Linked DNA regions of Homo sapiens: regions 1 and 2 are each linked to region 3. The links come from fine-mapping of genetic effects on gene expression. A gene starts in region 3. Each other region holds a variant in brackets. All regions are shown on one strand. Distances are from middle to middle. Region 1 has its middle 7.0 kb from the start of CD248. Region 2 has its middle 9.4 kb from the start of NPAS4. Region 3 holds the start of BRMS1 (BRMS1 transcriptional repressor and anoikis regulator).

The links. PIP is the estimated chance that this variant, and not a neighbour inherited with it, causes the effect. A credible set is the group of variants that fine-mapping cannot tell apart.
Region 1: its variant is the best candidate, but not a certain one, in a credible set for the expression of BRMS1 in non-classical monocytes (Schmiedel 2018, PIP 0.60).
Region 2: its variant is the best candidate, but not a certain one, in a credible set for the expression of BRMS1 in whole blood (INTERVAL, PIP 0.58).

Annotation. Positions count from the first base shown.
Region 1 is chr11:66,322,676-66,325,435 of GRCh38, reverse strand. No RefSeq gene overlaps it. Among named protein-coding and RNA genes, the nearest start is that of CD248, 7.0 kb to the right of the region's middle. The variant C/T (reference allele first, on the strand shown) is at 1,483.
Region 2 is chr11:66,410,272-66,413,031 of GRCh38, reverse strand. It overlaps a transcript of NPAS4 not described here. Among named protein-coding and RNA genes, the nearest start is that of NPAS4, 9.4 kb to the left of the region's middle. The variant A/G (reference allele first, on the strand shown) is at 1,440.
Region 3 is chr11:66,343,687-66,346,446 of GRCh38, reverse strand. It overlaps BRMS1 (BRMS1 transcriptional repressor and anoikis regulator), which reads left to right and starts at 1,343. Exons shown (of 10, transcript NM_015399.4): 1 at 1,343-1,475. B4GAT1 (beta-1,4-glucuronyltransferase 1) reads left to right here. Exons shown (of 2, transcript NM_006876.3): 2 at 207-1,073. The coding sequence ends at 398. RefSeq lists enhancers at 1,168-1,597, 1,053-1,603.

The sequences.
Region 1 (2,760 bases), 21 kb after region 3:
GCACATCACCCAGCTGTACACTCACAGCAGTCCCAGGCCTTTGCAAGCACACACATGCACACGCACACACACATGCACACACACATGCACGTGCACACACACATGCACACATGCAAGCATCCAGGAACACGAACATGGCCTCTCACCATGGTAAATACACCCCCAACCCTCAGCCCCCTTCGGTCGGCAAGATCCTTTACCCTCAGGGGCTAGGCCTGGTCTGGACCACACTTTTCCTGGGTCCCCCTTCCCCAAGCCTATTCCTCCCACCCGGCCCACTCCCCAGCACCACTGCCTCCCCTTCCGGCAGGGATCTCCCATCCAGAAGCACACAGGTTGGGGGGGAGGAGCAGGAGGCTGCAGTCGCTCCCTTCCCTCCCCAACTCCTGCCTGGGGTAGATGCCTGGACTTGGGTGGCAGGGACCCCCCAGCGCCCACCCAAGACCAGTGGCCTCCCACCCACCACACATCAAAGCTTCCTCCTGACAGTCCGAAGGCTGGGGTGGTTTGGGAAGAATTTAGGCGTGGAGGGAGGTGGGGGATGGGAACAGAAGAAAAGGAGAAAAGGAGGTGATTTGTACACAAAGCAATGTGCTGGCTCAGCGGCCTGGCGTGCCAAGGCCGTCCAGGACGCCTGCCTGGGGGGCGTCCCCTAATCACACTCGATACCCCACCCTGGCTGTTCCACTGGGCCCTCTCTGGGCCAGCCCTTCTTCAGGCCGCCCTCACCCTCACCCCCACAGGCCCACACATGGCATCCAAAACCACCATCTGCTTCTTGCCTGTCCCAGTAGCTGCAAGACAAGGCTCCTTCTCAGGCCATGGGCCTCTGTGTTCATGCTGTTCTTCAGATGAGCTCCCCTCATATGGGCCATGATCAGAGCAGGGAACCCCAGCCTCCTGACCCCTGATGTGAGCTGAGCCTGGCCTCCTGAGCTTGGAAGGTACATCGTCCCTACCCTCAGCCAGGGAGACATGTTGGCCTCAGAACCCAGCAGAAAACAGGCTGTTTGGTACCACGAGAAGCATCACACCTGATCCCTGCCAGTGGTAGTCTAAGTTGTCCTGTCCTGGGCTGCACTTCTGCAGAGCCGCGGAGTTCTGTTCTGAGCATGTCATTCATCATGGTGGCTGCTAGTTATGACTCAGGACCTCCCACTTCTGCCTGTGGCCCTATATCCAAACATGCATCTCAAAATCTTCTCATCCACACACCTGCCCACCTACCCATCTATCCATCCATCCACTTACTCATTTCTACATCCTTCCATTTAGCCTCCCGTCCACCCAACCACCCATCCACCTATTCTCCACGTAAACATCCTCCCACCCACCCATGCATCCATGCATCCATCCATCTATTCACTCTCCCACCCATGCATCCATCCATCTATCCACCCATGCATCCACCCACCCATGCCTTCATACATGCATGCATGCATCCATCCACCCACCCACCCATGCATCCATCCATTTGCCCAT[C/T]TACTCATGCATCTACCCACCACGCACCCATGCATCATCTATGCATGCCTCTGCCCACTCATCCACCCACCCATGCATCTGTCCAGCCACCCACCCATGCATCTGTCCAGCCACATACAGCCCTATGCATGCATACATCTATCCATCCATCCATCCACCCATCCATCCATCTTCTGCCCAAGCATCCTTCTACCCACTCATACATCTGTGCATACATGCATTCATCCATCTACCCATCTACTCATGTATCCACCCACCCACACACCCATGCATTCACCCATCCATGCATCCATCCACCCACACACCCACCCCAGATCAACATCCATGTATCCACCCAGCCAGCCACCCCACTCATTCATTATCCATGCATGCATTCATCCATCCGTCCATCAGTCCATCCACTCATGCATGCCTCCATCCATCCATGCATCCATCCATCCATATATCCACCCACCCATCCTCCAAGCATTTATTGTATCAATTAGCATCTTCTCTCTGCTAGGCTGAAAGACTAGCAGGAAGAACAAGACCCCAACCAACCCCTCTCCAGCCCCTTAAACCCAGATCCCTGATGCTATGCCCGCTACATCCTCCAGCCTCACTAGATAAAACAGTTCTTGGGCAGCCTCAACCTTACCTCACACAACCTTGGGGAGGCTGCTGAGTGCTGGGCACCCTCCCGAACTGAGCAACCAGATACCTCTCCAAGTCTCATTCCCAATCCACCAGACGCTTAGCCTCACAGAGGCCAGAGGTGCCCCTTCCTGCCTTCTCCATCCCTCATGCTGGCTCAGGCCTCCTTCCACTTGCAAGTAGGCCCAGCCAAGACATCTGGAATTTGGCCTTTGACCTTTCTTCTCCTGCTTTGCCTGCTTGCCCCCCAACCCCTCACCCCCACAGAGGCTGGACTCCTGACCTCTGATCCCATCCACCCACTTGTCAGACGGCCTGCAGCCATCCGTCCCCTTAGACGCCCTAGTACTGGCCATTGCCCGACTCATGACTGGGCTCACCACACCCTTGGACCAGGCTCAGGACTGCCCCTAAGGAGCCTCTGGAGGCTGCCTCCCCCAGCCCGGCCCGCCCTGCCGCCGGGCTCTCCAGCCAGCTCCCTCCCCTTTCCCAGACTATTGCAACAGCCTCCTAACTGGTCCCTGGCCTCCAAGCCCCCTCCACCCACCACACACAAGCCACAGAGATCTCTCATCATGCCTCTCTTCCCCATGGCCTCCAGAAGGGAGCCCCGGACTTTTAGGGACAACTTCAACACCTTTCAAG
Region 2 (2,760 bases), 67 kb before region 3:
CCACTGTCAACTCCAGCGTAAAGTGCTTCATAAACATTTGTAAGAAATTTTTAAAAGATGGAAGGAATGGAGAGATGTTCCTCAGAGAAGAGGAGGCTTGAGGAGGTGGTGTGGCATTTGCAGATGTTTGAAGGACCATCAAGAGGCAGTGGGAGAGACACGGTCCACGTGGAAAGGCCAGTGGGAGGGGATGTACCTGAGGCAGGAGAGGGTGGCGGGGGAGGAGAATCTGGGCTGAGTCCTGCCTCCTCCACAGACTGCCTTTGTGACATCGGTCAGTTAAGTGACTTAACCTTTTGTGCCTCAGTTTACCGATTTGTTAAATACAGAAGTGGGGAGAATGATGGCACCCCTATCAAGGGACTGATGTTAGCATTAAAGGAGTTAATTAGTTAAAACACTCAGAAAATGCCTGATGCATAAAAGGAGCACAAGAAATGCTCACATGGCAGAATGTTGGTCATTATCTTAACTTTATGAAAAATATAATTTTGAACAAGGCTATGCAGAGACGGCAGGGGCTGGTTCAGGAGGCAGCACATGTCCTGGCACTGCAAGTGTAGAAATAGCCTGGGTACCCACCGGCAGCTTTGATCCAGGCCAGGTCTGAGAGCACCAGATGGAGTAAACCAGGCTAAGGCTGCAGCCTGGAGAAGTGGAGGGATGCACATAAAGTGCCCCTCAGGGCTCTGGCTCGGGCCCCAGCAGGCTCCTTCCCCGGGCAGCAGCTGCCCCCTCCACTGCTCACCAAAGCCAGAGACGGAGGTCCCGGGCCGGGCCCAACACACCCTTCTGGTGCTCAGCAGCCCAGCTCCCCTTGCCATTCTTCCGGAAGCCAACCTGACCATGTTCTTCCCAGCTTAAGACCCTTGTGGCTCCCATTATCTCCCATTACTAAAAACTCCTCCAGGCTGGCACCTCCTTTCTTCCCCTTCCACCAACAGATACCTCAGCCTCCAGAGGCTCCAGCTTCAAGTCTCTCCTTGTTACTATCAGGGCACAGCTCGTAACATAGGAGTTTACAGATGAGGCACCTACCCACACCTTGTGTACCTGATGAGTGTATTAATTCATGAAAACCTCACAGCAGCCCTATGACATGCCAGCCATCATTACTCTCACAGGCCCTGGGCCAACAGAGAGGAAATCTACAGGGAACAGTCCGGGGGTCCCAGGAAAGACTGATGGGATTTAAGGCTCCAGTGGTCAGAGAAGGTCAGGGACTGGGCCGAGGGGCAACAAAGAGGAGACCCCCACGAGCAGGGAGAATGGTGCTCCCCATGCTGGGGAACGCGGGAACCACAGGGAGTTGGGTGAACCATGGTGAGCAGGGGAGAGTGACCCTTACGGCTGCTGATGGAGCAGCTTCTGAAGCCAAGAAGGGCTGAGCACTGGTGGGAGGGGAGGAGCACCAGGAAGCTTTGGTGGAAAGGACCATC[A/G]GGTTGAAGGGAAAGCCCCTGAATTGCCATCCCTGACAGGCTGTGAGTTGGGAGAGCCTTCTGCCAAGGAGTCCAAGGTCCAGGAAGAAGACGAGCTGAGCTCAGTCTAGATGTCAGCGGATTATGTTTGGTGCAGGGGAATAGTTCTGAATAGGAGCAGCAGAAGATGCAGATTCTGTTCCCAGCTCTACCACTAGCCTGCTGGGCGTGTTCTGCAAACCTCTCTCCCTCCCTGGGCCTCAGTTTTTGTATTTGCAAAATGGCAGTGGGTCAGACCCCTTAGCCTCAAAGGGCCCTCCCAACCTCTGGCACTTGAGCATCTCTGAGCCTGCTGGGCCACCTGTCCCAGTGCCTCTTGGGCTTTGGAAGTTGAATGCTGCAACCCCAAGCCCCAGTTTCAGGTAGGGATGAGCCCATTGCCCAATGCTGGGGTCCGAGTGGGCCTGAAGGCTCCCAGAGGACCACGTTCTCAGCCCTGGATGGGCAGGGACCCTGGAGACCTGGCCTGTGTGGACACAGGGGAGTAAGTACTGGGACTGAGCCTGTAGTTTTGCTTCTTCCACCCAACCCGTTGGGGGTCGTTCTCACAGCTTGGTGCTGGGTACACCAGGGGACTCACCATTGGAGGGATCCGATGGGTTCCAAGGTGCACAAAACAGACCCCCAGGTCATCCTCAGGTGGTCTACACAGCCTGTGGCTAAAGCAACTGCTGTCTCCAGCACTTCTTAGCTTCAGTCTGGTGAAAGGAAGAAAGTCCCCTTGGCAGTGTCTTACAGGCAGTCATAGAGGGACCCCACAGCCTGGCCAAAATGCTCAATTTCAGAAAATCCCAGACTCATAATTGGAGTGACGGCCCTTGAAAGATGGTCTTGGATGACTGAGACCTAATGCAGAGAGTGGAGTGACCCCAGTGACACACGGCCAGCACTTGGTGGAGGTGGACCCGGACCAGGTCCTTGGTTCATGGTGCAGTGGCCATGTGGGCCTCCCACAGGCTGTCCTCTGGGGCCCAGGTGCTGAGGAGCCTGGGCCAGGAGGCAGAGCTGTAGGTCCTAGTCTTAGCGGCACCCTGACTTGCTGTGCGACCTTGGCGAATTGTGTCTGAGGGCCGCCTGAGTCTCCCCCTCTGCACTGAGGGCTTGGCGCTGGGAGCAGACGCTCTGTTAAAGCACCATTCAAGGTCCCAGAGCTAGGCGCTGGGAGTGGACGCTCTGTTGAAGCACCTTTCAAGGTCCCAGGGCTGTACCAGAGCAGGAACTTCTCTCCTTGCCACCCTCGGAGCCCTCAAGTGCTGCTTGTGTGTTCGGCTCCACCTCTGGG
Region 3 (2,760 bases):
GGTGGGATCAGGGAGTTATGAGGAGTGGCCCTGGATGGAAAGGAGGCAATGAAGCAGGAGGGATCATAGTTCAGGAGGTGGGTGGATGGTGTGGAAGATCCAGGATACTTCCAGAGGGGTGAGGACGCTGGACTGTGGCTTTAGGGAAGTCAGTCTCAGGCCTGTCAATGTCATCAAACTTTGCTAACCTGTCTTTCCTCCTGCAGGCCTGCGAGCTGCATGTGGCGGGGTTTGATTTTGAGGTCCTGAACGAAGGTTTCTTGGTTCATAAGGGCTTCAAAGAAGCGTTGAAGTTCCATCCCCAAAAGGAGGCTGAAAATCAGCACAATAAGATCCTATATCGCCAGTTCAAACAGGAGTTGAAGGCCAAGTACCCCAACTCTCCCCGACGCTGCTGAGCCCTTCCCTCCCCTAATCTGAGAAGTCAGCCTCTTGGCTCCTCAGGCCACCATTTAGGCCTGACTGGGGTAAGAAATGTCGCTCCACTTTACAGAGGTAGCTGTGGTGTTGAAACACTGGACTTGGATATGGGGTGCTGGGATCGATTCCTAGCTTTACCACTAACTAGCTGTGTGGCCTTGAGTAAATCCCGTTACCTCTCTGAGCCTCGGTTACCCTGTCTGTAAAAAGGGAGGTGAGAATACCTACCTCACGGAACTGTTGGGAGGCTCAGATGAGATGCTATATGTGAAAACATTCTGTAAGCTTCGTACAAATGTGAAGTATTAATATTATCGCAGTATTATTGTTGTTATTATTATTGTTATTATTAACAATCTTGGGTGGGTAGTAGGAGAGCAAAAAGTATGAATGGGATGGAGCTAAGAAGTCTGAATACTTAATGAAATGGACTTTTTGGAAAGAAATCAGATGAAGGCATAAAATTTAGTTCTTAGCTCTTGAACAGAAGCCTAAAATTCCTGGTTCTCTCAGGGCTTCGCCTTCAAGGGTTCTGGAGGAGGGAAGGGTCTGCAGGTTCCATGGGTGACAGCCTGAGATCTGTCCCTTCAACGGGCTGGGCTGGGTATGTGCCTACCGATGACAATGTGTAAATAAATGCGTGTTCACACCCACAGCTGGCTCCGTTACTCTCCTGAGCTGGGGGTGGGGGGATCGGGGCCGGCTTCTCCCCTTGCACGCCGTGGGGAGATGGCCGCGGACGAAGGGCACCGTCTGCAAAGCACTGAACCATCAGGGCCTTCCCTGCAGGCCGAAGGCCTGCGCGAATGTCGGCCAGTTACTATGGAGACCGGCCCGCGGTATCCCAGCATGCCTCGGGACCAAACTGTCCAACTGTGAGCATCCCCGACGGTCGCCTCCTGATGACGCACACGGAAGCACCGATAGGCTCTGCCTCCCGAAGAAAAGGGAGCCGCGCAGCGCCTACGGGAGTCCGGCGGCAGCAGCCGGTACCGGCAACCACGGGCAGCTCTCAGGGAATCTCCGTCGTGAGGCCAGAGGCTCCAGTCCCCGCGGTGCGTATCGTCATGCATGGCTTTTGGTTCGCCCTCTCCGGTTAGTCGAGCAGGGCCGGCACAACCTCCTCCTCCGAGGCCGAAGCAGAGATTTAACCGGCCTGACGCGTGCTGGGCTGCGGGCGAGCCAGTGATATTCCGGCCCGCTCCGGCGCATCTAGAAGGGAGCGGGAGGCCCCCTGGGCGCTGCGGAGAAGCTGGATTGACCTCTGCGAGAGTGGGGAGGGTCTGCCTTCCCTAGGGGCCTGCCCCGGAGGAGCTGCCATTCTGAAAAGATAAATTGCCTGTGTACAGCGCTTTACAGTGTGCTTTTCCATCCCTTACCACCTGTGAGCTCCTCAACACTCAGAGCAGGAATGGTTATCCGCTTTTTGCACCCGGGGTAAGGTGGGAAGGTTGTGACTTAACTCACTCATAATCAGAACCAGGGGGAGGAAAGAAAGGCTTCTGGAAGAGATAGACTTAAGCTGCATCTTACAAAGTGAATATACTAACAGTGAAGAGGCATTGCAAATGTTGGGAACTGAGGCTTGATAACGGGAAGATGAAGCTGGTTTAGAGAACCGAGCCTTTCAAGTCAGGTGCAGGTCATTAGTGAAATTGTTGAGGAATATGACTAAACACTCACCTAGGCCAGGCTTACTATACACAACTTGAACTGGTGTCAAGGAAAGCTTGCTACCATTACAGGGACCTGGGACTACCGAAAAGTAAAAACTAATGTCTGTCTCACAAAAAATTTTTTTGTTAAATTTGTATTTGCAAATCCTCCAGTCATCAAGTGAACCAGCACTGTGCTAGGTAAATAAGTTACATGTGCAGCCCCTGCCCTAGTGAGGCTCATAGACTGATTGCGGGGACAGATATGAGAACAGGCAAATAGATATAAACAAAGCTTCCTGGAGGGAGTGGTGTCTGCACTGTTCTAAAGGACTACAAAGCAGTGTCCAGAGAAGTTGGAAGAACACAATAAAATAGAAGCCTGCAGGAGGTTGAGAGATTATCTGCTGAGAGGACTGTTTTCTTCTTCTTAGGTGATCTCTTGGCAGTACTTGGCACTATCAGTGCAATTACTCCTTGGCAGTACTTGGCTTTCTTCTAAAACTCTTTCTCCACCACTTCGGGTTTTGCCTCCTCCTTTGTAGGGGTCTCCTCATCTGCCCCTTTGGTGACCCTGGGCGTCTTCTGATCGCACACATTGTGCCTTGCTGGTTGCACCTTCTCCTGTGGCATGAAGAACTTGCTGTATGCTGACGACCAAATCCCTGCAGCTCAGATTTCTCAC